Linked DNA regions of Homo sapiens. The protein of the gene in region 3 interacts with the protein of the main gene of each other region in a pairwise test. Each region holds a gene or a part of one and is shown on either strand. Other genes may lie near its edges. The genes, in order: CCDC57, CCDC102B, ARL4A and SPATC1L.

Region 1 (7,594 bases), on a different chromosome or scaffold from region 3:
TTGGAGCCCCCTTGGGTGCCCACCCACTGGGCAGCACGGCCTGTTCCACACCAGCCTCGAGGGAGCATCCCCTGGTCCTGCCCGTGTCCACACCAGGATCCCTGGCAGCACTGGCCCTGCCTCCAGGTCTTGACCTCCAGGAAGTGGCTGTGGTCACGGCCGCTGTGGGGCATGTCTGACGCCGCTGTCCGGCTCCTGGTCCCATCTGGACAGTGCCAGTCTTGCTGGTCTGTTCCTGGAGGGTCTTCCTGTCCAGAGGAGCCTCCCTGCCTCCAGCCCTCAGGCAGGAGTCAGTGCCCACCCCCCTCCTCCTGGAGCAGCCAGACACTGAGGCCCACTCACACCCACCAGGCCCTTTCATTTCTTGGCTCCTCTCTGGCCTCAGGACCTGGGAGCCAGGCAAATGGTGCCCATGGTCACCCTTTCAGCTGAGCCACACGCCCGGGTGCCCCAGGGACAGAGCAGGGCGTGCCACAGGCACTGGCCAGATCCAGATCGGAGCAGGGCCCGCCCACACCCACCGGGCCCTTTCATTTCTTGGCTCCTCTCCTGCCACAGGGCCTGTGAGCCAGACAGATGGAGAAGTTGCCTCTGCAAGTCTGACGTGGGCATTCCCCAAACCTGAGAGGAAGTGGCTTGCTCTGGCCCATGCAGGCTGGTGCCCAGGCGGGGGCCCCCGCACCTCTTGTCCTGGATCCCTGTGCTTTTAGGGCCCTGCAAGAGGCCTGGAGGCCTCAAGCAAGCAGCTTTTGGGGGCTCCCATGGTGAGGTCTGCCACCAAGGTCAGTCTGTGTTCTGGGAAGCAAGAGCCTCAGCCCACACTTACGCCCTCAGCCATGGCCTTCTGACCTTCCTCTCACCCTCCCTTGTTTACCCCACTCAGTGACATGCGGCTGCCTGACACCCAGATGTGTGTCTGGGTGGGTGGGGCATAGGTGCCAGGAACGCAGCTGGGAGCAGGACAGCCAGTTCCCCACCCACCTTGCTCTGCCACAGAGGCATGGGAGGGTCAGGTCCTGGCCGTGTCACTCACCGGGGCACCAGGAAGGGCCCTCGGCCTCCACTGTCGTGGCATGATGAGGGTGGTTGCAGGACGGCCTGGGGGAGCCAGCACTGGGGGCTGTCAGCCCCACACAGGTCCAGGGCTGAATGGTGGTCCCCAAAGAAATAGGATCCAGTCGTAGCCGCTGGTCCATTAGAATGCGGCTTGGGAATAGGGTCATCGCCGACGTAATTGGCTGGGTGGTCCTGCTCCAACGTGATGGCGTCCTAAGAAGGGCAGCACATGGAGACAGACACACAGGAGAAGCCGCATGATGGTGGATATAGGGGCGGGAGGGGGCGATGTGGCTGCAGCCAAGGGTGCCGAGGCTGGAAGGGTTAGGTGCCTGTGGTCCCAGCTACCTGAGGCCAAGGTGGGAAGGATTCTCCCATAGGGCTTTTGGAGGGGCCATGGCCCGGCCGACATCCTCAGCTTTCCTGAACTGGGAAAGAAGAAAGGACCAGTTTGGGGTTCTTTGTTTTGGCGGCCCAGGCCCTGGCTCACACCCTGTCTGCCTTCCACCTGTGAGTCCTGCTGGGTGCTGGAGGCCAGGAGTGAAGGGAATGTGGTCTCCCTCAGCCAACTCCCGGCCACCCGCACTGAGGGTGCCCAGGTGGAGCCCAGCTGGGGAGCTGGGCAGGGAAGGAGGGGGAGGGGTTCTGCAGTGTGGGGGGGGCAGGGAAGGAGGGGGAGGGGTGCTGCAGTGTGGGGGGCAGGGAAGGAAGGGGAGGGGTGCTGCAGTGCTGGGGGGATTCAGTAGGTGTAGCCTCGGGCCTGAGCTGACGGCGGGCGCTCTGGGACCGTGGAGCTCAACCCAACGGAACGGCCCTCGAATCAGAGCACAGGCTGTGAGGGCCAGACCGGCCTGCCCCACAGCTTCAGGAACCAGGCAGTGCCCGTGGCACACCCTGCTCTGTCCCTGGGGCACCCGGGCATGTGGCTCAGCTGAAGGGGTGACCATGGGTGCCATGCTGCTGACTTGGGCCAGCACACGATTCCAGGTCCAGATACCCATGACGTGACAAATGACCTGCTAGGGCCGCATAACTCAACACCACAGCCTGGGCGGCTTAAACGACATTTATTTTCTCACTTCCGGAGTCTGGATGTCAGGGATCAGGCTGCCGGCAGGGTGGGTTCCTCCTGAGGCCTCTCCATGGCTTGCAGACGGCACCCTCTCCCTGCGTCCTCATGTGGCCTCTCCTCTGTGTGCTCACTCCTGGTGTCTCTTCCTCTTCTTTTAAGGACAACAGTTCAGGGTCCCACCCTTAGGACTCACGTAACTTTAATTACCTTCTTAGAGGCCCTATCCATAACACATAGGTTTAGAGGGTTTTTTTTGGAGACAGGGTCTTGCTCTGTCACCCAGGCTGGAGTGCAGTGGCGCGATCATAGTTCACTGTGGCCTCGAAGTGCTGTGTTCAAGTGATCTTCCCACCTTGGCCTCAGGTAGCTGGGACCACAGGCATGTGCCATCACACCCGGTTAATTTAAAAAAATTTTTTTTGGCCAGGCATGATGACTCACACCTGTAATCACAGCACTTTGGGAGGCCGAGGCAGGCAGATCACTTGAGGTCAGGAGTTTGAGACCAGCCTGGCCAACATGGCAAAACCCCATCTCTACTAAAAATACAAAATTAGCTGGGCATGGTGGCAAGTGCCTGTAATCCCAGTTACTCAGGAAGCTGAGGCAGGAGAATCGCTTGAACCTGGGAGGCGGAGGCTGCAGTGAGCTGAGATCACGCCGCTGAACTACAGCCTGGGCAACAGAGCGAGACCCTGTCTCCCGAGCTCAAAGGATCCTCCCTTTGGCCTCCCAAGGTGCTGGGTTCACAGGTGTGAGCACTGTGCCCGGCCCACACATGGGTTCCCATAGATCCCACTTTACAGGCAGGGACACTGAGGCATGCAGAGCCGGGATACAGACCAAGCAAGTCCTGGCTCCTCTTCTGGGTGTCCCAGCCCGTCTCGGACACCCACGCTTACCCAGGCCTGGTGGCTGCATCGTGGACATGGGGGCAAGGCAGCTCTCTGGGTGGGCAGAGGCAGGAGCTGAGGCAAGGATGTGGGCATCCTTTTGGGTACATCTAGTCCTAGAGCTGATCCAGGGGCCAGTCAAATGTGCAGCCAAAGTCGGGTCAACCCCAGCACTGTCCTGTGGGTGGGGGTAGCAGGGAGCCAACAGTCCAGGCCCTACATCCTGTTCTAATAGAGTGACAAGTCTGATGAGGCTGGGGGTGCACAAGCACTGAGAAGGCAGCAGGACAGGGAGCCAAACACATGGGGTGGTGGGGGAAACCAGGGAGCTGGACACAGGGTGGGGGGGTCCTGGGAGTTGGACACATGGGCCAGGTTGGGGGTCCAGGGAGCTAGACACAGGGGGTGGGGAGGGGAGTCCAGGGGACTAGACACAGAGTGGGGGGTGGGTCCAGGGGGCTAGACACACAGTGTGGGGGGTGGGTCCAGGGAGCCGGACATACACATGGGGTGGGGAGGGGGCATCCAGGGAACCAAGTCTAGGCAGAGGCAACTGGCGCAAAGGACCTGAGGCAGAAGAGGGTTTGGTGTGTGAGGCGGGACTGAGGACTGTGGGCGAGGGAGACAGCTCTACCAGGACGCATGGTTCGGGGAGGACAGGCTGCAGGGTGCCTGGGCTGCAGGCACGGCACGGAGAGGAGTGATCCAGTGTTAACAATGTGGGTGGAGGATGACACCAGACCCCTGGCTTATTGCCCCACCAGGGGAATTCCCAGACACCAAACACCCCCTCCACTCCCACGCAGAATTGCGGGCTGAGGGTTCGGGTGAGCCAGGCTGCTCTGTCCCGGGGCCGGGCTCTGTTCATCCATCCGCAGATGGATACGGACACGTGCCTTTTTCTGAGGATGTGAATGGTTGGGAATGGCTGTGCCTGAGGATGTTGTTCCCACAGGATGGTGGGGGCGACTTCGGGCCTCGGTGGGTCCCGACCCCCCTCCTTCCCCCAGTTCCCTAATCAGGGTCTGAGCGACCGCGCGCACGGCCCCTGGGCCCCGCCGGTCTCCGAGCCCGTGGGCAGCGCCGGGAACTCGTGCCCCGGTGGCCGCAGCCGACCCTTAGGCAGGACTTCGTGGCGCCCCCGGCCCGAACAGACCCCCACGGGCAGCCTCGGCCGCCCCGTGCTCCCTTCATCTCAGGGCAAAAGCTCAAGTCAACCCTTCGGGACCGCGAGCCGGGCGGCCTCAGGAAGCGGGCGCCTGGGGACCCTCGGCCGGGCCGGGGGCGGCGAAGGTGGGGGCGCCTCGCGCGGCGGAACCCGCCGTCCCCATAGCCCGGAGCCCCGTCCGGAGTCGCCCCGCTGACCGGTGAGGAGGCCGGGCTCCCTCCTTCGATCTGCGGCGGTGGTCGGGTCGGCCGGGGCGCCCCTCGGACCCGGGCGCAGCGCGGAACCCGGCGGGGCGGGAGGGGCCGGAACCTAGCGCCAGGGACCCCGTTTCCTGTCGGCGGGACCCGAGCGCTGCACCGAGCGCAGCCGGACGCGGCCGACTGACCCGGTCGCTGTGGCAACGCGGCGGGACCTGGCCAGCGCTGCTGGCGGGCGTTAGGGTGAGGTGCGGGCGGGCGGCGTGGGAGGCGTGGGAGGCGTGGGGGGCGCCGCTCCGACCACTCTTCCTGTAGAAAACCCCAGCAGCTGCCGTCCTGTCGGACGCAGCGCTTTGGTGGGGACCTGGAGCGCGAGGTCGACCCTCAGAGCTCGGCCAGGCCCGGACCGGGGATCCCCTCGCGGAGGCTGCGGCGGGGCGGGGCGGGGGTTGCGGCCGCGTGGAGCGGGAGCGTTCCCTCGGTCTCCCGTGGGTGACCTGGGGCGGTGGGCGCTGCCGACCAGGGCCCCGCAGCCCCGGGAGAATTCCCCGGGTTCCGCCGCCGGCAAGGACGGCTCCGCGCCCAGGCAGCCTTACAGTGTCTGTGAGTTTAAAAAAAAAAAAAAAAAAAGAGAGGAAAAAAAAAGGCCGGAGGCGGTGGTTCGCGCCTGTAATCCAGCACTTTGGGAGGCAGAGGCGGGCAGATTGCTTGAGGCCCGGAGTTCGAGACCAGCCTGGCCAACATGGTGAAACCCCCTCTCTACTAAAAATACAAAAATTATTGGGCGTGGTGGTGCACGCCTGTAATCCCAGCTACTCCGGAGGCTGAAGCAGGAGAATCGCTTGAACCCGATGTTGTAACTGAGGGAGTTATAGAGAGAACGCCACACTCTGAGACTACTCAGGAGTCCTGTATTGCCAGCGACTGACAGACTGCTAGAGCTGCAAATTCCCTCGGCCCCGAAGAAGGGGCTAGATTTCTTTTGATACCTTGGTCTAAATAGAGGAGGGGAGGCTAGCTGAAGCGATTTTTTTACAGAAGCAGAATAGGCAAAAAGTTAAAAGATAAATGGTTACAGAAACAGTTACAGGAAAATAAACAGTTCCAGGTACAGGGGCTTAAATTATCACAAAGTGATAAACGCAGGGGCTTTGGGTACCATCAACCGAGCGCGTTCCCAGGAGCTGCTGGTACAGCTTGCTCCAGTTTCTTATCAGTATTTTATCAGTAAGCGCATTCCTGGATGTGCTTGGAGTCAGCTTGCCCCAGTTATGTCCTTAAGGGACGGGGACAAGGGGCTGCAAGCGAAGAAACCAAAATGGTGTCTGTCCGGCCCTCTCAGCTAAGAGAGAGTCAGTCAGGTTAAAACAAAGTAGGGTACCACACCGAGAGGCGCAGGTTGCGGAGAGCCAAGATCGCGCCATTGCACTCCAGTCTGGGAGACAAGAGCGAAACTCGGTCTCAAAAAAAAAAAAAATTATCTGTAACTTAGAAAAAGGATACAAAAGGAGCACAGATTTCCCGTGTGCCTTTTGCCCAGAGCCCCTAGAATGCTGACCTCTTAGAGAACCACAGTTCATTCAGCAACATGTAGACGCTGGCGTTCATGTTGGTATCATCCCATGATCTGGTCTCCAGTATTTATTCTTGCTTAGCAGCTACCTCATGGATGACTTTACCGTGGTCCAGGATCCAATGATGAGTCCACTATTTTATAAAATGCCCCCCAGTTCGGGGGCATTTCTCTGATGTTTTGTCATAATTGATTTCATATTACTGATTTTTGGCAAGAAAACCTCAACAGGGAAATTGTGCCCTTCCCAGCGTCTTACGAGACACAGGATGCCCCTGGCTGTTGGTGCTAGTCACGTCCTGGGGGCTGAGGTGGTGTCTGCCAAGTGTGTCCATAAAGTTAGGGTCCTTCCCTTTGTAAATAATAAATATTTTGTGGGGAAATATCTTGCCACTATGTAAAAGATGATGTTTCTTTCTTTCTCTCTTTTTCTTTTTTTTTTTTCTTTTTTTTTTTTTTTTAAGACGGAGTCTCTCTTTGCCGCCCAGGCTGGAGTTCAGTGGCGCGATCTCGGCCCACTGCAACCTCTGCCTCCTGGGTTGAAGTGATTCTCCTGCCTCAGCCTCTCAAGTAGCTGGGATTACAGCCGCCCACCACCACCCCCAGCTAATCTGTGTATTTTTAGTAGAGACGAGGTTTCGTCATGTTGGCCAGGCTGGTCTCAAACTTCTGACCTCAGGTGATCCACCACCTTGGCCTCCCAAAGTGCTAGGATTACAGGTGTGAGCCACCGTGCCCGGCCTTTTTTTTTTTTTAATTAATTTTATTTTTTTGAGACTGAGTCTCTCTCTCTCTCGCCCAAGCTGGAGTGCAGTGGCTTGATCTCGGCTCACTGCAACCTCTGCCTCCCGGGTTCAAGTGATTGTCCTGCCTCAGCCTCCTGAGCAGCTGGGATTACCAGCGCCTGCCACCATGCCCGGCTATTTTTTTTTTTTTTGTATTTTTAGTAGAGACGGGGTTTCACCATGTTGGTCAGGCTGGTCTCGAACTGCTGACCCCAAGTGATCCGCCCGCCTTGGCCTCCGAAAGTGCTGGGATTACAGGCCTGAGCCACAACGCCCAGCAAGATCTTGTTTCTAACCATACTTCTGTCACTAATTTTAGCACCCATGAGTGTTTCCCCAAAATAACTGTTAATGTGCTATTTGTTAAATGATTTTTCTGTTTCCATTACTCCTACATTTATTAGTTGGGATTTTCCTATAAGAAAGAACCATCTCTTCCCAGGCTGGCTTGCAGGGGCGCGGTCTCGGTGTTAGTGCATCTTTTTATTCCATGGATTCTAACCCATCGCTATCACGTACTTTGTTGCTCACATTATCCAGATTGAGGTGTTAGGAGCCCCTTCAAGTTGGCCTCTCTGTCCTTATAGCACGTCCCAACCTTCTGGGAGCATTTTCTTTCTTTCTGGCATCACAGAATTCAGGCTTATCTTATGCTTGCCTTGACATATCCCAGAATCAGTCATTTCTCCAAGGAGCCCTGGTTCCTTTTAGTTTAGAAGGTAGTGTTTAGAAACCAAGATCCCAGTACCAGATAGACATATTGCTACTGGGATGCCATTTCTTCTTGGCTTTCTTAATGGATAGAGTAGGAAACGTGTTTCTATACACTATACACATGCAAATCTATTTC
Region 2 (2,645 bases), on a different chromosome or scaffold from region 3:
TAGGATCTTGAGAGGAAGACGCCTTGCCAGTTGCCCCACACCCACTTGGGGCACAGCCACAGAAAAGCAGAGAAACATGGTCAGGCAAGGGGAACCCTAATATTTAGCTTCTCCAAACTGTATTTGGTTCTCATATGGGATTGTGACTGAGATGAGACCTTGACCTGCGGCCCATCCTCAAGGCTCCATCTGGATGAATTGCTCAGTCAGTTGGTTGACAGGGGATATGATGGGATAGAGGAGGTCATACCAGAAAGCACTGAGATGGATCCAGTTCACAGGAGGAGTGTTAAGCAAAGAGAAGGAAGTTCACATTTAAGCATCAGAACCCAGCAAGAGTACCCAGCGACAAGATAGATTTCATTACTACACAGCCTAGCAAACACACACCAGTGCGCACTTGAAGATCGGGCCTCTTTGCCCCTCAGTGCTGCGTTCCTATTAGTCATACAATCCCCCATGTTTGGGAGAGAAACAGGGAAAAAGTGAAGACTCAGTGAATGACAAAGGCTTTTACAATGAGAGACTCTGATAAAAGTGGTCTTTATTCAATAATGAATTAGTAAGATTTCATTTTTTTTTGGCTAATCAATGGAGGGGGAGATGAGTAAAACCAGTATGTTATTGACTGAGTTAAATCTTACAAGTTGCCTTCAGTTGAAAATAGGTATGGAAAATTATAAGTGTCTTTTTGTTCAAAATAACATTTTACCTTAAAAACTAAACTTAAATATGAAGCAATAAACTATAATGTACATAAAAGTTTTAAAGAAATATTCACATAACCACAATTTCCTAATTTTCTCTATTCCCACTACTCAGAGGGAAACCACAGCTTAATTTTGGCCTGATTTCTACCTAGATGCTACTTTGCAATGCTGATGCCTTTCCATGATTTTACTGTAGAAATGTCTATCCAGATAAAAGTCAAAAGTCCTTTTAGTTTCTCAGCGATGCTTACAGCCTGTCTTAGATTCAATCACTGGTTATCTGTTACTTTAAAATACAAAACACTTTTTTCTGATTCATCTGCTCACTTCTGTTTTATACAAAGATTAGAAATGACTTATAAAATTATATAAGAAATGTATTGTTACACCTCTAGAATGATTCATTTTTGTTAATACAACCTGCCATCCCCACCACATAGACAACACGTACATAAAAGTTTACCAATTATTTAAACAAACCAGTACTTTATACTTAAAGTCAATGGTTTTCTTATTAATGACCCAGCGTCTTGTATGGTTTTCAACTTACTTTTTCTTACCGATATTATAACTCTTTCAGATTTTATGTAAAAAGTATTCTGAAAGCCCTTTTTGACTTTCAAAATATTTACACATCTTAGAATTAAAGTTGTTTTTAAATGACATTTAAATTGTCTTTTTGAGAATATGCAGTATCTGTTAGGCAAAAATTAGAAGAAGTGAAGAAGCCCATTAATTTGTGTATTGTCTACGTTTTTTTCATTAATATTTCTAGTTAATAAAAACAATTTTACTGATATTTAAGAAAAGGATATGGAAATGTCTTTAAGGCCCTAATCTTTAATTCAGCATATTTTGTGAAAAAATTACCAGTTTTGCAAGTGCCTGAGTTCAGTCTCTAAGTTTTCATTTCTTTCTTTCTCTTCATCCAGAGACCTCTGGAGCTTACGGATCTGATTCAGGGAATCATCAAGCTGAAAGCGAAGTAGAAAATGCTTTAGTTAGGTTCAAGTGTTCTATAGTACATCATGGTGGCTATAGTAAATAACATCTTATCATATTCTTAAAAATTGCTAAGAGAATAGATTGTAAGTATTCTCACCACAAAACTATAAGTATTTGAAATAGTACATATATTAAGTAGCTTGATTAGCTAGTCTACAATGTACACATTTAGAAAAACATCATGTTGTATATCATAAATATGTACAAATTTTACTTGTCAATTTAAAAATAAAATTTAAATTGAAAAACATGAGGATCCATTCTATATAAGACACAGCTTTCTATCTCCATCTTAATAAGAAAAGCTCTTAATGAAAAAAAAAAGTAGTTGAAATAAAGTAACTCTTTAAAAACAAGGTATATGTTTGTATGACAGTAACTTACCAGTAGTGTATGTGTGAGTTTCTTTTGTATATGTGCATGAATAAATGAAAATATTCATTTATTTTAATAGAGTTAATGTACATATTCAGTAATAAACCTCAAAATGATCTCTGAAATATTTGACAAAATCCTTTCTATGTAGCCACTCTTCTCCCATTTCCCCTCTTGCCTCCCCTAGCTATAAGTCACTGAACTATAACTTGTGTTTTTTATTCCCATGGCTTTGAACAAAATACACGTGTATGTATACATATTCACATATACATATGCTAAGTGTATATATATATATATGTGAAATATATTTATATATATTATTGAAAATGTATCATTTTAATTGTTTTAATTAAAAAAGGTATTTCATGCTATATGTAATATTCTTGCTTTTTAAATCCAACAGCTAAGACTCATCTACAGTAATGTTTCATCTGTGGTCTCTTTGTCCTCTCTATTATAGCACTGCATTACTATGCCATGACATATATACCTACCCTCCTTTCCATGAGTATTTATATTGTCTCCAGCCCTGTGATGCTCTGAACATTCATA
Region 3 (6,997 bases):
AGGTGATTCTCATCATTAGCCAAGTTTGGAAAACCACAATTAAAGGTGAGGTTCGCAGAGGCCCTAGTGCCTCAGTACTTTTTCATGGTACCTCAGGCCAAAATAAATAGCCAACATTTCTATTTATGAAATTGATAGATCCAAACTTGATAGTTGTAGTTGTTAATATGGTCCAACAGATGTCACTGTGTTTCCCTCAAAAAGTTAAACTATCCCACAGAACCCCTAGGAATTCTGAGGCACCCCAGAGCACTATTTACAAGCTACAGGCCCTAAAGGGAATTTTTTTCTGGCATAGAATGTAAGTAAAAGCTCTGAATGGGCCTTCTATAAGATCAGGCAACAAAGTGAACCTTGTGTTCCACAAATTCCATTGCTTTTAATATCATTTGTTGCTGTTTTCATATGGTTTTTATATATAGAACAGGCACACCAAACATTTTTCTACAGAGGCAGAGAGCACATTTATTTTGTATGTGTGTGTTGTGGGGGGCATAGATGATCTTGATTGCATATTCTTTTCTTATCCATTCTCTTGCAGCCCTTTAAACTTGTAAAAACCATTCTTATCTCCTGAATTTGACCTACAGGCTGCAGTTTGCCAACCACTACTGTAGTTTTAAAACCTAGGGTATAACATTAAAGTGCAATTCAGTGAGGACGATTCTGCAAGATTGGAAGCCCTCAGTGTTTTTGTTTTCCTTTTTTCCCTTTTTGCTCCAGGGAAGACTGTGCAAGGAACACTGGAAGGACTTAGAGATTTCAAAACTACTGTAAACAGAGGGTGGCCACAGAATTTTCTTGCTCTAAATTCTTGACTTAAGGAGAATCTGCAAGTTATCCCAGTTTAATAAAGAATCCCTATTGAATTTCCAATAAAAGGAAATAGGTTATTGCACTAAGCCCTTTATCAATTATTAGCTGATTATGTGAATGGCTAATGAGATTTCACAATTATAACTAATCAGGCAATCCTTAGTTTATAATAGATTCATGTTTATAGAATATGCCATTTGATATTTCTAGCTCTTATTCCCAAAATTAGTGTGGCTGTCTTGAGATTATGCATTGTGCTCAGAACTTAGGTTTTTACGTCGTTTTTTGTTTTTGTTTTTGTTGTTTTTGAGACGGAGTTTCGCTCTTGTTGCCCAGGCTGGAGTGCAATGCCGCTATCTCGGCTCGGCAACCTCCGCCTCCCGGGCTCGAGCGATTCTCCTGCTTCAGTCTCCTGAGTAGCTGTGATTACAGGCGCCCGCCACCACGCCTGGCTAATTTTTTGTGTTTTTCGTAGAGATGGGGTTTCCCCACGTTGGCCAGGTTGGTCTCGACTTTTTAAAGAATCCGGTATGACAAGTATGCATGTTCCTGTGCTAGTCATAAAAGAAATAAATATCACTGGCAATAGCGGTCTTGAGAAAAACTAGGATATTTCTTGAGGAAACTCCAATCCATATTTAAAAAGAAAAAAAGCACACTTTTAAAAAAGTGTACCATATAGGTTCTTCCAAGTTACAGTCTTACAGCCTTCACCAAAAAGATGTTTGTCGATTAAAGCTTTCCTACAACTTCAAGTCATTACTTCTTTTGCAGGTTGTCATAAGCACCCTGAAATTACCGCTGAAAACATTTTATAAATTTAGTCATCCATAGAGACTCCAATATTCCACAAGGGCAGGGACAGTGTATTTTGCTCACCATTTTATCCCCAAGCACACAGAATTGTGTCTACTGCCTATTAGGTGTTCAATAAATATTTGTGAACTTATTGATCAAAGACAAAATTTAGTCAGAATCATCCAATGAAAAGCATTTTGCATTTGATGACTAGTAGACTTAGATGAACAGTTCCAGGACCACCACTAATTTTCCTTGGGTCATTAGAAACATCCCTTTGGGGCTGCGGAGAGAAAATCCAATCTGGCCGCTGCCCCACAGCCCCTTTCTGTTCTGCGCGTTTGCCTCGCCGTTCTGATGGAGGAGGAGGTGGAGGTGGAGGAGCAGCAGCGATTTTCTTAGCCATTTTCTTACCAACAGAGGCCAAAGGAGGCAGCAGTGGACTACACTGTGGGTTGTCTTTGCGAGGAAGTGGCATTGGGCAGAGATGCAGTTCAGCAAACTTATCATTGCAGCAATTTCGGAGCTGACTTTTCGACAGTGCAAGATCTAGAAATGTGTGCAAGACATGCGAAAACCACCACCATTAACACTGAAGATGTGAAGCTCTTAGCCAGAAGGAGTAATTCACCGCTAAAATACATTCAGACAAAAGTGAAGAGCTTGCGCAGATTAACCTAGAACGAAAGGCACAGAAGACAAAGAAGAGGATGGAAACAAAAATGCAAGGGAGCCAGCAGAGGCTGGAGTACAGGAAAGTTAAGAATTAAACTCTCCCGCTGCTTGGAAAATGCAGCTTTCTGCAGGTAGAGCCACCTAGTATGTATATGGCCACAAAGGGAATTTTGAAGGGATAAATAGAGATTAAAAAAAAAAAAAAGGCTAGATGGCTTTTTGTGTTGTATTTTCCAAGTCGTTAACTGCAAACGCTAGTTTTAAAGAGAACTGGACACTCAATCAAAATACTCCTGTCTCACTCCAGCACATACAAATGGTGTAGTTGAATGGTATATTGGAAATTATATCTATTGCAATTAAAATTGTGTGAGCAATTTGAAAGAAAAGAAAAAAAGAAACATCCCTTTCATCTTTCAGAGTGTATTTCCTTATGTGTCAAACTGGAATATTTCTATCTGTGGCCAGTTCCCCGGGATGCTGCTAGAAACACGTGAGACAGCGCGTTCATTTGCTCTACAAAAAGCGAATGAAGGCGCAGTTACCAGGCCAGTCAACCCAGGCTGTTTAAGGTCAACTACTGGGGGACTTCCACGTCACCTCGATATATACGTAACGCGTGTGTGCCGTAACCCGTGAACTATGGAATCCCTAACCGCGAATCACGTGGCTGCTGCCCCGCGGACGCCCTAGACGACGTGAGGGAAGGCGGTGCCGGGCGGGGCCTGTGCCAGGCTGGCGGGCCGCCGCAGACAGAGCTACCCGGAGCAACCGTTCAGGGGTGAGGCCGGAAGTCCCATCCGACCTCGCGGGCAGCCAGCGCTAGGCCGATTCGAACTCGACCTTGTTTTGGCGTTGCTAGGAGACGCGGCTCCTGCGCGCCCCCTACAGGCCGGCGCCCGGGCGGCGCGCGGGCAGGGGGCGGGGACTGTCGCGTGGAGCTGCCGGGCGAGCACCGTTAGGGCAGCCTGGCGCGCGGCGCCCGCCAGGCGCCCAGTCCTCTGCCATCGCCCACGCCTCCCTGGTGCCAGGGAACAGGTATCAGCGCGCCTCCCCAGCGGCTGGGAGAGACGCTGAATGAAGAAGAGGGAAGGACGGTTAGTCAGGTGAGCCGCGGCGGGGTGGGCGGCCGGGGCGGCCACGCCCTGCCGAGGGAGAAGAGCCGGTCGTGTGCGGAGGGACAGGGTGAAGGGATCCCACTTCGGGGAGGATGGGCTTATCCCGGCGGGCGCGCCAGGTGGGATCTCTAGCGCCTCAGGGGCCCGCGCGGCAACAGCCGGCACCCTCGGGCCCGCGGACAAAGGGTTAACGCGTTGGCAGTGACTGCGGGCCCCGGATGTGAGAGCCTTGGCTTGACGCCCTGGCTGCGCTGCAGGTGCGCCGGGCCGAACGGAGCCGGCAGCCTGGCGGCGACCTGACCGCCCGAGGCTCCCCTTCACCTGCAGCGGCTGCTCGGCTCCCTCTGGGAACGCCGCCTTTTCTAACTTAAGGGCAACAGGTGGTGCCGGTGGACCGAGAGAGAGCTCAGCTCCGCCGCGCTGGGAGCGGCAGTTACCCTCACCAATTAGGGAGCGGGGGCGGGAGTTGCATGGCTTCCCTGATGCGGGTGACCAATGGGATTTGGGATCATGAGTGGACCGGGAGGAGTGGGCGTGGTCGGAGTCTGAGTCCAAGGTTTCTCGTGCGGCAACTGCCAGAGCTGCTTGGAGAGCTAAGCTGGAAGGGTGCTTATCCCTGCGTAGAAACGCCTGCCAATGCTTTCTCATTTGGACCCAGACTCCAGATCGGGAGGTGAGAACGTTGTTATTTTGCAAGGGGTAGGAGGTAATAGTGATCTTGGGTATGCTGTTAAGCATGTGGAATTAGATTCCGAAGATAGGACTATCTGCTATGAGTTTTCTGCCAGATAGGCACTTTGTGGTTACGGCCACTTAGACCAGATACTGGTGACTGGGTTCTTTCCAGAATGAGGTCTTTGAGGTTTGGGGACCCAGGAGAAAAACGTACATATTACTGCAATTTAAGTAAACCAGATAATTTCAATCACTGTTATTCCATCGTTTGTCTTGGACTGTGTGTGTTTTCATGTACGTTTCATATCTCGTCTGGTTTGTTTAGCGCAGCAAGTTATAGTAAGTTCTTCGTGTTGTTTATTTTAGCAAAGTAGAGCAAACCTGTTTTAATGTATTATTTCGGGAGAATAACTTATTCCTTCTTCCGTCTCCCAGCAGTCTTATAGCTGGATCAGCTACCAAGAGAAGTTGTAAACCAAGAAGAGAAAAGCATTTCAATTTGGGACATTTATTTGCACCTGGAAATGGGGAATGGGCTGTCAGACCAGACTTCTATCCTGTCCAACCTGCCTTCATTTCAGTCTTTCCACATTGTTATTCTGGGTTTGGACTGTGCTGGAAAGACAACTGTCTTATACAGGCTGCAGTTCAATGAATTTGTAAATACCGTACCTACCAAAGGATTTAACACTGAGAAAATTAAGGTAACCTTGGGAAATTCTAAAACAGTCACTTTTCACTTCTGGGATGTAGGTGGTCAGGAGAAATTAAGGCCACTGTGGAAGTCATATACCAGATGCACAGATGGCATTGTATTTGTTGTGGACTCTGTTGATGTCGAAAGGATGGAAGAAGCCAAAACTGAACTTCACAAAATAACTAGGATATCAGAAAATCAGGGAGTCCCTGTACTTATAGTTGCTAACAAACAAGATTTGAGGAACTCATTGTCACTTTCAGAAATTGAGAAATTGTTAGCAATGGGTGAACTGAGCTCATCAACTCCTTGGCATTTGCAGCCTACCTGTGCAATCATAGGAGATGGCCTAAAGGAAGGACTTGAGAAACTACATGATATGATCATTAAAAGAAGAAAAATGTTGCGGCAACAGAAAAAGAAAAGATGAATATCAATACCTATTATATCTGTGTGGAGTAGGTTTTCTCTGGTCTGATTTTGACAAATAGAAGAGTGTCTACAGCGTGGTTTGCCTGTCTGCCCTCCTGGATGCTATTAAAGCTTTGTTTTGTTGAACAATCAGATGCCCAACTCTGTTGCCTTGTGGAAGATGAGTAAATGCAGTGCTTCTTAAAGTGGTCTCTTCTCCCTACCCCACAAATCTTTTGGTACTACCATTTGGGGAAGCCAAGCAAGGATAGTAAATTGACCAGAACACAGTTGTGGGAATTTGGTCTGAAGTTAGTGAAATAAAACTTTAAAGAGTGTCTGCCTAGTGTTTTGTGCTTACATCTTTCGGGGGGAAGCCTTTGCAAGAAAATTGCATACAAGGCTTTGTAACGATCAAGTGCTAATCGATGGAAATGTTAAGGTAGATTAACATATATGCAGTTATATTGATCACATTGGTCCAACCAGTCCTTTTTTGAAGTAAGGGACAAGGAGTAAGTATTTTCTTTTTTAAGTTTCTGCCAAATGATTTTTGACGCTTTCTGGAATCAAGTAATTTAATAGTATAGCTTAATTCTAGACAATGTTTAAGTTGGTCTACCTTTATTAAAAATAAGATATTTGGGGTATATTCAAGTGCATGGATTAGTTTTCCTGACAAAGCATGTTTTGGTGTGTAGTCTTACTTTTTAGAAATAGCTATGCATCGTTCTACACAGGTTTAAAACAACTTTTTTGGGGATTTAGGGCTATTATAGGAATAGTTTGTTGTCAGAAGCACTTTCACTTGAAGAACCTAAAATGATTGACTCATTCATAGTAAATATGGGCATGTAAACTAATAAATATGCACTGGATACATATATGGATTTATGAAGAAGGCGATTTAGTCAAGAGGATGTAATTAAAATATGTGGTCTCTAAAATATTCCAGTTACAAGATATTTGTTTTATTAATATTTGCTGGCTAAAAACAAATGTGGTTTTTATATATTTTTGTAGTGTGTTGAGAAGAGCAAAAGCTTTATAAATATACCTGATGCGCTGTAGAATGAAAATGTAAAAGATAACCTGTATGTGTTCCGAGCTTTAATTTTTTGTTTACAAATTGAACAGTGTTACATGGGCTGTCCAGTCCTGATTATAGAGAGGAAGAAATGGTAACAGTATGGCAGATAAGAATTACAATTATAGAAAATGAGGGGAAAATAACAAACCTGTTTTATGAAAATTCACTGGTGCTGTTTACATTGGAATAAAAAGCTCTATAAGGAGGAAAGGCCTTTATCTAATTCTTATCTACAGACACTTACTTCCAGTGACCATATTTTACTAAATCAGCTTATTTTTTATGTCTAAAGCAACAGCTGTTCTGAAAAATCACCAAAAGAAATGCACTTTGCTAGCAGGATTTGTTTTGGCTTTGGGTTTTGTTTTTTTGTTTTTTTTTTTTTTCAGTGGCATAACAGTTTTTGGAACCTTGATTCTTGTGTCACACAAAATGAATGAAGTAGCTTGATGTGGAGCCTTCATATGTTAAATATTCCTGCACTAGTGATGGTCACTTAGAATGTTTATAGAAATGTGGATAATAACTACCAATAAACTACTTGAGGCACTAGGAGAACAGTATTTGACTTTGAATTTTAATGTATTTCCACTTTTGCTGAAGCTTTTAATCAGATGTGTAAAAACAATTGACCAGCTAGGCTATTTAGTCCCATAGTAGTTCAGATCTGCTTAGATGTGACAGGCATTGAAGGCTGTTTTTTTTTTTTTCTCCCTT
Region 4 (7,605 bases), on a different chromosome or scaffold from region 3:
GGGAGGCCCAGCCTGGTTTAGGGAACAAGAGTGACGTGAGGAGTAGCAGGGTGCGTCTCCAGTTACCTGAGGGAAAACAGATATTTTAAGAGATAATAGCATAGCCTATTTTAATATGTTTTAAAGGCCATAAGCATATCCAGGAAGATAAATAAACGTGATACAATGTCCACATAGGAGGAACTTTCTTTCACTGCATTGTTTTCCTTCACAGTGGCCTTCAAGTCACAGGACGCAGCGATTCCCTGCCCTCTTCGGTGTTATTACACAGGCAGGACTTCAGTGTCAGTATCCCTGCCTTCAGTCTTCTTTAGAAATCACATCTGTGTTCAATCCATTGTTTAGAGGGAGTGTATTTTTCCTGTTCCACGAAGAGGACTTTTTGTTCACAATTGGATCACAATGCAGAGGAGTCTGTTCCTCCCCCGTCGGCTTCTCGGTGCTGGGAGGGTGACCTGTCCCAGATGACTCATCACCCTGACATGCTCTTGACAAAGGACACCACCAAGAGGAGATGGCAGCTGTACCGGTGCAGCCTCTGTCTGAGGGGGATATTTGCCTCAGTGTGATTAAAAATCAGTCATGAAAGATTTTTGAATTCAGATTATTTTTATCAGGAACAGATTTTGAACATCCTGAAATCTTTTCCCTGGCATCATATTAGGTTTTCTTTGTTCACTATGATGTAAAGTTTCAGACTCTTGATATTTTTAATATCAACATAGACGGTAGGACAAGGAACGGTACCAGAAATGAGTAAAGAGACAATAATGATAAGATCGATTTATCAAGACATAACAACCCCAAATGTATATGCACTAAATAACAGCTTCAAAATACATGAAGCAAAATGGCAGAATTGAAGAGAATGAGATAAAAACAGAATTTTAACGGGTGCTTTCCGTACTTTGTAACTGACAGACATGAGATCTGTAAGGACAGAGATTTGAACATCAGCCAACACAAGCGAGCGGTCTTTAGAGGATGCTTCACCTAACACTGCTGAAGCACACGGCTTTGCAAGAGCTCGTGGCCCATGTGCTAAGGTAGACCACAGCTGGCTCACCAGGTGAGTCTCAGTATGTTAGCAAGGACGGAAGTCACACACAGCATCCTCCCCCACCACAGTGGAGTTAAACTGAATTGAAAATCAGTGGCAAAGGAGCAAAGGCAGTTCAATGGAGAAAGGACAGCCTTCAACAAATGCTGAAACAAACTCCATTTGTAAAAAAAAAATGAACCTTGACATACCCTTCACATCTAGACATACTCAAGATCAATCAGAGACCTAAATGTAAAACAAAACTATAAAACCCCTAGAACATCACATAGGAGGAAATCTAGGTGACCTTGGGTTTGGCAGTAACTCTTTAGATATGACACCAAAGGCATGATCCTCGAAAGAAAACATTAATAGGTTGGGCTTCATTAAAATAATACATTTCTGGCTCATGCCTGTAGTCCCAGCACTTTGAGGGGCCAAGGTGGGAGGGTCACTTGGGCTCAGGAGTTGGAGACCAGCCTGGATAACAGTGAAACCCCATCTGTACAAAACAGTCAGAAGATTAGGCAGGTGTGGTGGTGCGTGCCCGTTGTCCCAGCTACTCGGAACACTGAGGTGGGAGGATTGCTTGAGCCTGGGAGGCCGAGGCTACAGTGAACTGTGGTTGCGCGGCTGTGCTCTTAACTTGCGTGACAAAGTGAGACCCTGTCTCAATAAAATAATTAATGAAACTGAAACTTTCTGCTCTGCAAAGAATGTCAAGAAAATGAAAAGACAAGTCAGAGACTGGGAGAATATATTTGAAAAAGACAAAGGATCAGTATCCAAAAGAGCTCTTCAAACCCAACAATAAAACAACCTGGTTAAAAAATGGGCTGAAGGGGCCGGGTGCGGTGGCTCACGCCTGTAATCCCAGCACTTTGGGAGGCCGAGGTGGGCGGATCACAAGGTCAGGAGATAAAGACCATCCTGGCTAACACGGTGAAACCCCGTCTCTACTAAAAATAAAAAAAATTAGCCGGGCACGGTGGCAGGCGCCTGTAGTCCCAGCTACTCGGGAGGCTGAGGCAGGAGAATGGCGTGAACCCGGGAGGCAGAGCTTGCAGTGAGCCGAGATTGTGCCACTGCACTCCAGCCTGGGTGACAGAGAGAGACTTCGTCTCAAAAAAGACAAAAAAGAAATCAAACAAACAAAAGTGGCTGTGCCAATTTGCATTCCCACCAACAATGAGTTCCTGTTACTCCACGTCCTCAGCAGCATTTGGTGGTGGCAGTGTTCTGGATTTTGGCCACTCTAAAAGGTATATTGGTAGTTTTAATCTGCATTCCCCTGATGACATATGATGTGGAACATCTTTTCATATGCTTATTTAACAACTGTGTATCTTCTTTGGTGCGGTGTCTGTTAAGGTCTTCAGCCTTTTCTTTTTTTTTTGATACGGAGTCTCGCTCTTTCGCCCAGGCCGGAGTGCAGTGGCGCGATCTTGGCTCACTGCAAGCTCTGCCTCCCGGGTTCACGCCATTCTCCTGCCTCAGCCTCCTGAGTAGCTGGGACTATAGGCGTAGCGAAACTGCTCTGGCCTGACACTGTGATGGTGGATACAGGTCATTATACATTTGTCCAAAGCCAGAGAATGTGCAGCATCAAGAGTGAGCCCCATTGTAAACTGTGGGCTTTGGGTGGTGACGATGTGTCCATGTAGATTCATCAGCTGTAACAAATGGACCACTCTGGGACTGAGTGTGGGTGTGCGCGCCTGTAATCCCAGCTGCTTGGGAGGCTGAGGCAGGAGGATCTCTTGAGCCCAGGCATTTGAGGCTGCAGTGAGCCGTGATCATGCCACTTGCCCTTCAGCCTGGGCAATAGAGCAAGACCTTGTCTCAAAAAAGTACCACTTTGCTGCAGGACGTTTCAAAAATATTCTCCCAGTCTCTGACTTGTCTTTTCATTTTCTTGACATTCTTTGCAGAGCAGAAAGTTTCAGTTTCATTAATTAAAGTATTTTATTGAGACAGGGTCTCACTTTGTCACGCAAGTTAGAGCACAGCCGCGCAACCACAGTTCACTGTAGCCTCGACCTCCCAGGCTCAAGCAATCCTCCCACCTCAGTGTTCCGAGTAGCTGGGACAACAGACACGCACCACCACATCTGCCTAATCTTCTGACTGTTTTCTACAGATGGGGTGTCCTTCTCTTTTGATAACTTTGGTAGGGTTTGTCCATTTCCTGTGGTTGTGGAGCACGGGCATCAAGCTTTAACTACACCCCACAAATTCTAATGTCATGTTTTTATTCTCATTCAACTTGAAATATTCTCTGGTTTCCTTCGTGCTTTTGTCTTTTTCAAGACTTTTTTAAGAGGAGTTTTAGGTTCTTAGCAAAATTGAGAGGAAGATAGAGAGATTTCCCCACTCGCTGCCCCAACAAATGCACAGCCTCCCCTATTATCAACAAACTACCTGACAGCCACAATTGTCAGCAAAACGCACATGAGGGAAAAATATAAAATATAAGTAGCGTTGTATCTATTTAAGAAATTGATTTAGAAATTTAAAACTTTTCCAGAAGAAATCTAGTTCTAGATAGCTTCACAGATGAATTCTATCCGACGTTTAAGAAGGAACACCCAGAAAATGGCGCAGAATCTCTGCGGCTCATTTTAAAAGGCCAGTGTTCCAAAGCCAGACCGAGACATCACAAGAAAAGGAGATTCAGATCGACTTCCCCTGTGAGCATAAAAATACTTAAAATATTAATAAATTGAATCCAGCGCTATATTAAAAGGATAATGTGTCAAGACCAGAAAACTGTCAGAATGTTGATAGGTCCGTGGCTGGAGAGTACCTGACGTCAAGAGAAGGTTTCCTTGGAGCGGGAGGAAGACGGCATTTAAAATATGATGGGAGGAGCCAGGGCAGGAAAAGCCATTCAGGGCCCCGTCGGGCTCAGAGCGGGGGGCGCATCCGTGACTCATCCCTCGCTTCTCTCTCTGCCCTGCATCCTGGACGCCCTGCATGCCCTCGTCAGTGGGCTGTGGCTGGGCCCCCGTTGTCTTGATCTGAGGTGTGAGCCCTGTGGTGCAACACCAGGCTGGTTGGGTTGTGTCAGGAACGCTTGGGGTGTAGAAACCTCCTTTCTCCACAAAGCCTGACTCAAGACTTTCTCTCCTAGAAGCAACCTTCCCCTAATCTGGCCGCCCGGGCTGAATGAAGGTGGTGTTCTCCCAGGGGCATCTGCACCTGAGTGCCCTTGGTGGTCCTGAGTGCCCGTCACAGGGCTGGAGGTGTGGCCGGCCCACTGGGATGGTGGTGGTGGTGGGTGCCCATCACAGGGCTGGAGGTGTGGCCGGCCCACTGGGTTGGTGGTGGTGGGTGCCCGTCACAGGGCTGGAGGTGTGGCCGGCCCACTGGGTTGGTGGTGGTGGGTGCCCGTCACAGGGCTGGAGGTGTGGCCGGCCCACTGGGTTGGTGGTGGTGGGTGCCCGTCACAGGGCTGGAGGTGTGGCCGGCCCACTGGGTTGGTGGTGGTGGGTGCCCGTCACAGGGCTGGAGGTGTGGCCGGCCCACTGGGTTGTGCTTTCTGCCGTACGTCCCTTCCCATGAGGATGAGATGACCCATCTGTTGCATCCCGGCTGCTGATAAAACAAGACCCTCGGAGCCAAGAAACAACACTGAGGTGATTTACTTTCCCAAGTAATTGAAGCAGGGAGTCAGGGTGGGTTTCAAGTCGGTCGCACTGACTGAGGACAGACGCCTGCTCTAGCAGGGCCCCATGAGCCGCAGCCCTGTGTGACGGCCCGAGGGGCCGTGGCCATGGGTTGGGGGCGTCCTCAGTTACGTGCAGGCAGGAGCAGTGCAGTCAGGAACAATTGGTGTCTTAGACACGGGCGCTCGTGGTCTGAGGGGTGGACATGCACTGCTGGACCCTTCTCATCAGGGAGTGAGGTCAGTAGGTGGCCTCCAGCCCAGCCCTCAGGGCCACCCAGTGCTCCAAAGCATGTGGGGGCCATCGTGGGGCTGCCTCAGGCTGGTCTCCCCACCCTAGGCTGGTCTCCCCCGCAAGACTGGTCTCCTCCCCCAGGCTGGTCTCCCCCACAAGGCTGGTCTCCTCCCCCAGGCTGGTCTCCTCACCAGGCTGGTCTCCTCCCCCAGGCTGATCTCCCCGCCCAGGCTGGTCTCCCCCGCAGGCTGGTCTCCCCCGCAAGCTGGTCTCCTCCCCCAGGCTGGTCTCCTCACCAGGCTGGTCTCCTCCCCCAGGCTGATCTCCCCGCCCAGGCTGGTCTCCCCCGCAGGCTGGTCTCCCCCGCAAGCTGGTCTCCTCCCCCAGGCTGGTCTCCTCACCAGGCTGGTCTCCTCCCCCAGGCTGATCTCCCCGCCCAGGCTGGTCTCCCCCGCAGGCTGGTCTCCCCCACAAGGCTGGTCTCCTCCCCCAGGCTGGTCTCCTCACCAGGCTGGTCTCCTCCCCCAGGCTGATCTCCCCGCCCAGGCTGGTCTCCCCCGCAGGCTGGTCTCCCCCGCAAGCTGGTCTCCCCTGCAGGCTGGTCTCCTCCCCAGGCTGGTCTCCCCCGCAGACTGGTCTCCCCCACAAGCTGGTCTCCCCACCAGGCTGGTCTCCCCCACATGCTGGTCTCCTCCCACTGCCCTTGCCAGTCCCTCCCTCCTCAAGTGTGGGTGCCAAGGACGGACCCTGATGAACACCTGCACATCAGTTGCTGCCCTGGGTGCCAGGGTCCACAGGAAGCTGCACTGGGAACCCTGTGTCCTGGGCAGGTCCTATGGGAAGTGCAGCCCACATGTTACTCGGGTGAAGGCAGCGTCCCCACCCAGCTTGAGGACACCACACAGGGTGGACACCCGACCCTGGCTGGGCCGCTCAATGGGGAGTGGCTTGGACGCCCCTCTTGGAGTACAGTCGCTACATCCCGTAGCTGCCTAATGTCCTTGGCATTCTCGGGCCCTGGTCATAATGTGGGAGTGGCTGCCTGTGCACGCCACGGGCCTCCAGCTTCACTGCCTCAACGGGGCCATGAGCCATCGCGGGGGCAGGCAGGGTGCTGGGCACCTCATCACTAGGGCAGTGACATCACAAGGCGTGGAAGGCGGTGGTGGCTACGGAACTCCGTGCCTGGGCTGTTTCTGTGGTGCCTGCGGGCTCTGGGCTCCCACCTCCATGGGGCTGCAGGAGCCGTGAGGGACAAGGAGGGACGCACCCGCCATGGCTGAAGGCGGCGAGCTGATGAGCCGGCTCCTGAGCGAGAACGCGGACCTGAAGAAGCAGGTGCGCCTCCTGAAGGAGAATCAGATGCTGCGGCGGCTGCTCAGCCAGAGCTGCCAGGAGGGCGGCGGCCACGACCTGCTCCCACCCAGGGCGCATGCCTACCCTGAGGCCGGCTCCCCCGGGAGCGGAGGTGAGGCGCCGCCCAGCTCAGATGGCCTGGTAGATGAGGGGGTCGCGGGACGCCTGCTCCCCGGGAGTCGAGGGTGGCGGCCAGCTCCCTGATGCGGGAGGTCACGGGCACCTTTCACACCCTCAGGTCTGAGTAAAGCAAGACCAGGTGGTGGGTTCTGCTGTTGCCCTCAGGTGAGGCCCCTCCCCTCCCCTTCGGTCGCTGGCGAAGTGGGAGTGGTCAACCGCTGGCAGGTGGACTGGTCAGCTGCAGTCATGGAAGTGTCCCCATAGGGGTAGAGCAGGTGGCGCGCAGGCTTGTGGGCCTCCAGGGCCCCAGGCAGCTCTTCCAGGCTGGTCCTGGCTGGCAGTTTGCTCTGCTGCATGTGTCTCTTCTCCTGGGTCAGGGGCGAGGGGGGTGTCAGACCAGCCACACGAGTCCCATGAGTGCTGTGTCCCATCCACTCATGTCCCCGGCCAGAGCCAGGCCAGCCCCATGGTGGGAAGGTCCCACCCTGGGGAGGCCTCAGAGCCACCGGCCAGGGGAGCAGGTAGGGACAAGTGGGCGCCTGTCCCTGCGGGGCTGGGAGTGTGGAGCCATGATCCACTCACCACATAGCATTGACTCCGACCTTCTGTGGCTTTTTACTGAAAAAAGTATATATATAGGGTTTGGTCACTTTCTGCAAAGTAGTAGGCTTTATTCTAAAAGGTTTGGGAAAAACATTACCCGTTCCTGCATGTGATTTGGGGTGGGGCTGACAGATGTACCCTTGACTTTTTGTTGGGATGGTGGGCAGAGGACAGAGTCCCTGACCCAGCACTGCCTGGGATTCCCACGGCCAACCTCAGCTTCCCACCGGGCCGGGCCCGGAAAGGACGTGGTCAGCCTGCCTGGTCCTGGACGATGGAGCAGGCAGCCTCGCCAGTGCCCGTGAACACTGCTGTCTGCGAGCACGAGCCATGCCCGGGAGGCCAGCTCTGCCACTCACCAAGGGGCCGCTCCAGCACCTGTGCTGGGGGTGGGGGAGGTTGCTTCCTGAGTCCTTCTCAAACGCTGGCCACCACCCTCAGATGTGCACTCTGAGCAGGCGCAGTGTGCAGGAGGCACTCTCCGCAGCCAGGCCCCAGGCCCTGCTCGGAGCTCCATGGACAAGCCTGAGAGCGAGCGTGTCTGGAAGCAAAGAGGGGAATCCATGGCATCGTCCCCACACC

What was found.
Region 1: the proteins of ARL4A (region 3) and CCDC57 interact in binary tests that used the Homo sapiens proteins (3 or more experiments, as listed by UniProt).
Region 2: the proteins of ARL4A (region 3) and CCDC102B interact in binary tests that used the Homo sapiens proteins (3 or more experiments, as listed by UniProt).
Region 4: the proteins of ARL4A (region 3) and SPATC1L interact in binary tests that used the Homo sapiens proteins (3 or more experiments, as listed by UniProt).

The regions. Positions count from the first base shown.
Region 1 is NC_000017.11:82,209,820-82,217,413, reverse strand, and holds the start of CCDC57 (coiled-coil domain-containing protein 57), read left to right. Parts: upstream 1-4,571; 5' UTR 4,572-4,629; intron 4,630-7,594. UniProt on the Homo sapiens protein: Pleiotropic regulator of centriole duplication, mitosis, and ciliogenesis. Critical interface between centrosome and microtubule-mediated cellular processes. Centriole duplication protein required for recruitment of CEP63, CEP152, and PLK4 to the centrosome.
Region 2 is NC_000018.10:69,053,069-69,055,713, reverse strand, and holds the end of CCDC102B (coiled-coil domain-containing protein 102B), read right to left. Parts: intron 1,685-2,645; coding exon 1,577-1,684; 3' UTR 525-1,576; downstream 1-524. UniProt on the Homo sapiens protein: During interphase, forms fibers at the proximal ends of centrioles to maintain centrosome cohesion. During mitosis, dissociates from the centrosome following phosphorylation to allow centrosome separation. Contributes to CROCC/rootletin filament formation.
Region 3 is NC_000007.14:12,683,649-12,690,645, forward strand, and holds the start of ARL4A (ADP-ribosylation factor-like protein 4A), read left to right. Parts: upstream 1-3,984; 5' UTR 3,985-4,080; intron 4,081-4,517; 5' UTR 4,518-4,606; coding exon 4,607-5,209; 3' UTR 5,210-6,997. UniProt on the Homo sapiens protein: Small GTP-binding protein which cycles between an inactive GDP-bound and an active GTP-bound form, and the rate of cycling is regulated by guanine nucleotide exchange factors (GEF) and GTPase-activating proteins (GAP).
Region 4 is NC_000021.9:46,181,431-46,189,035, reverse strand, and holds the start of SPATC1L (speriolin-like protein), read left to right. Parts: upstream 1-4,576; 5' UTR 4,577-4,680; intron 4,681-5,261; 5' UTR 5,262-6,219; coding exon 6,220-6,412; intron 6,413-7,605.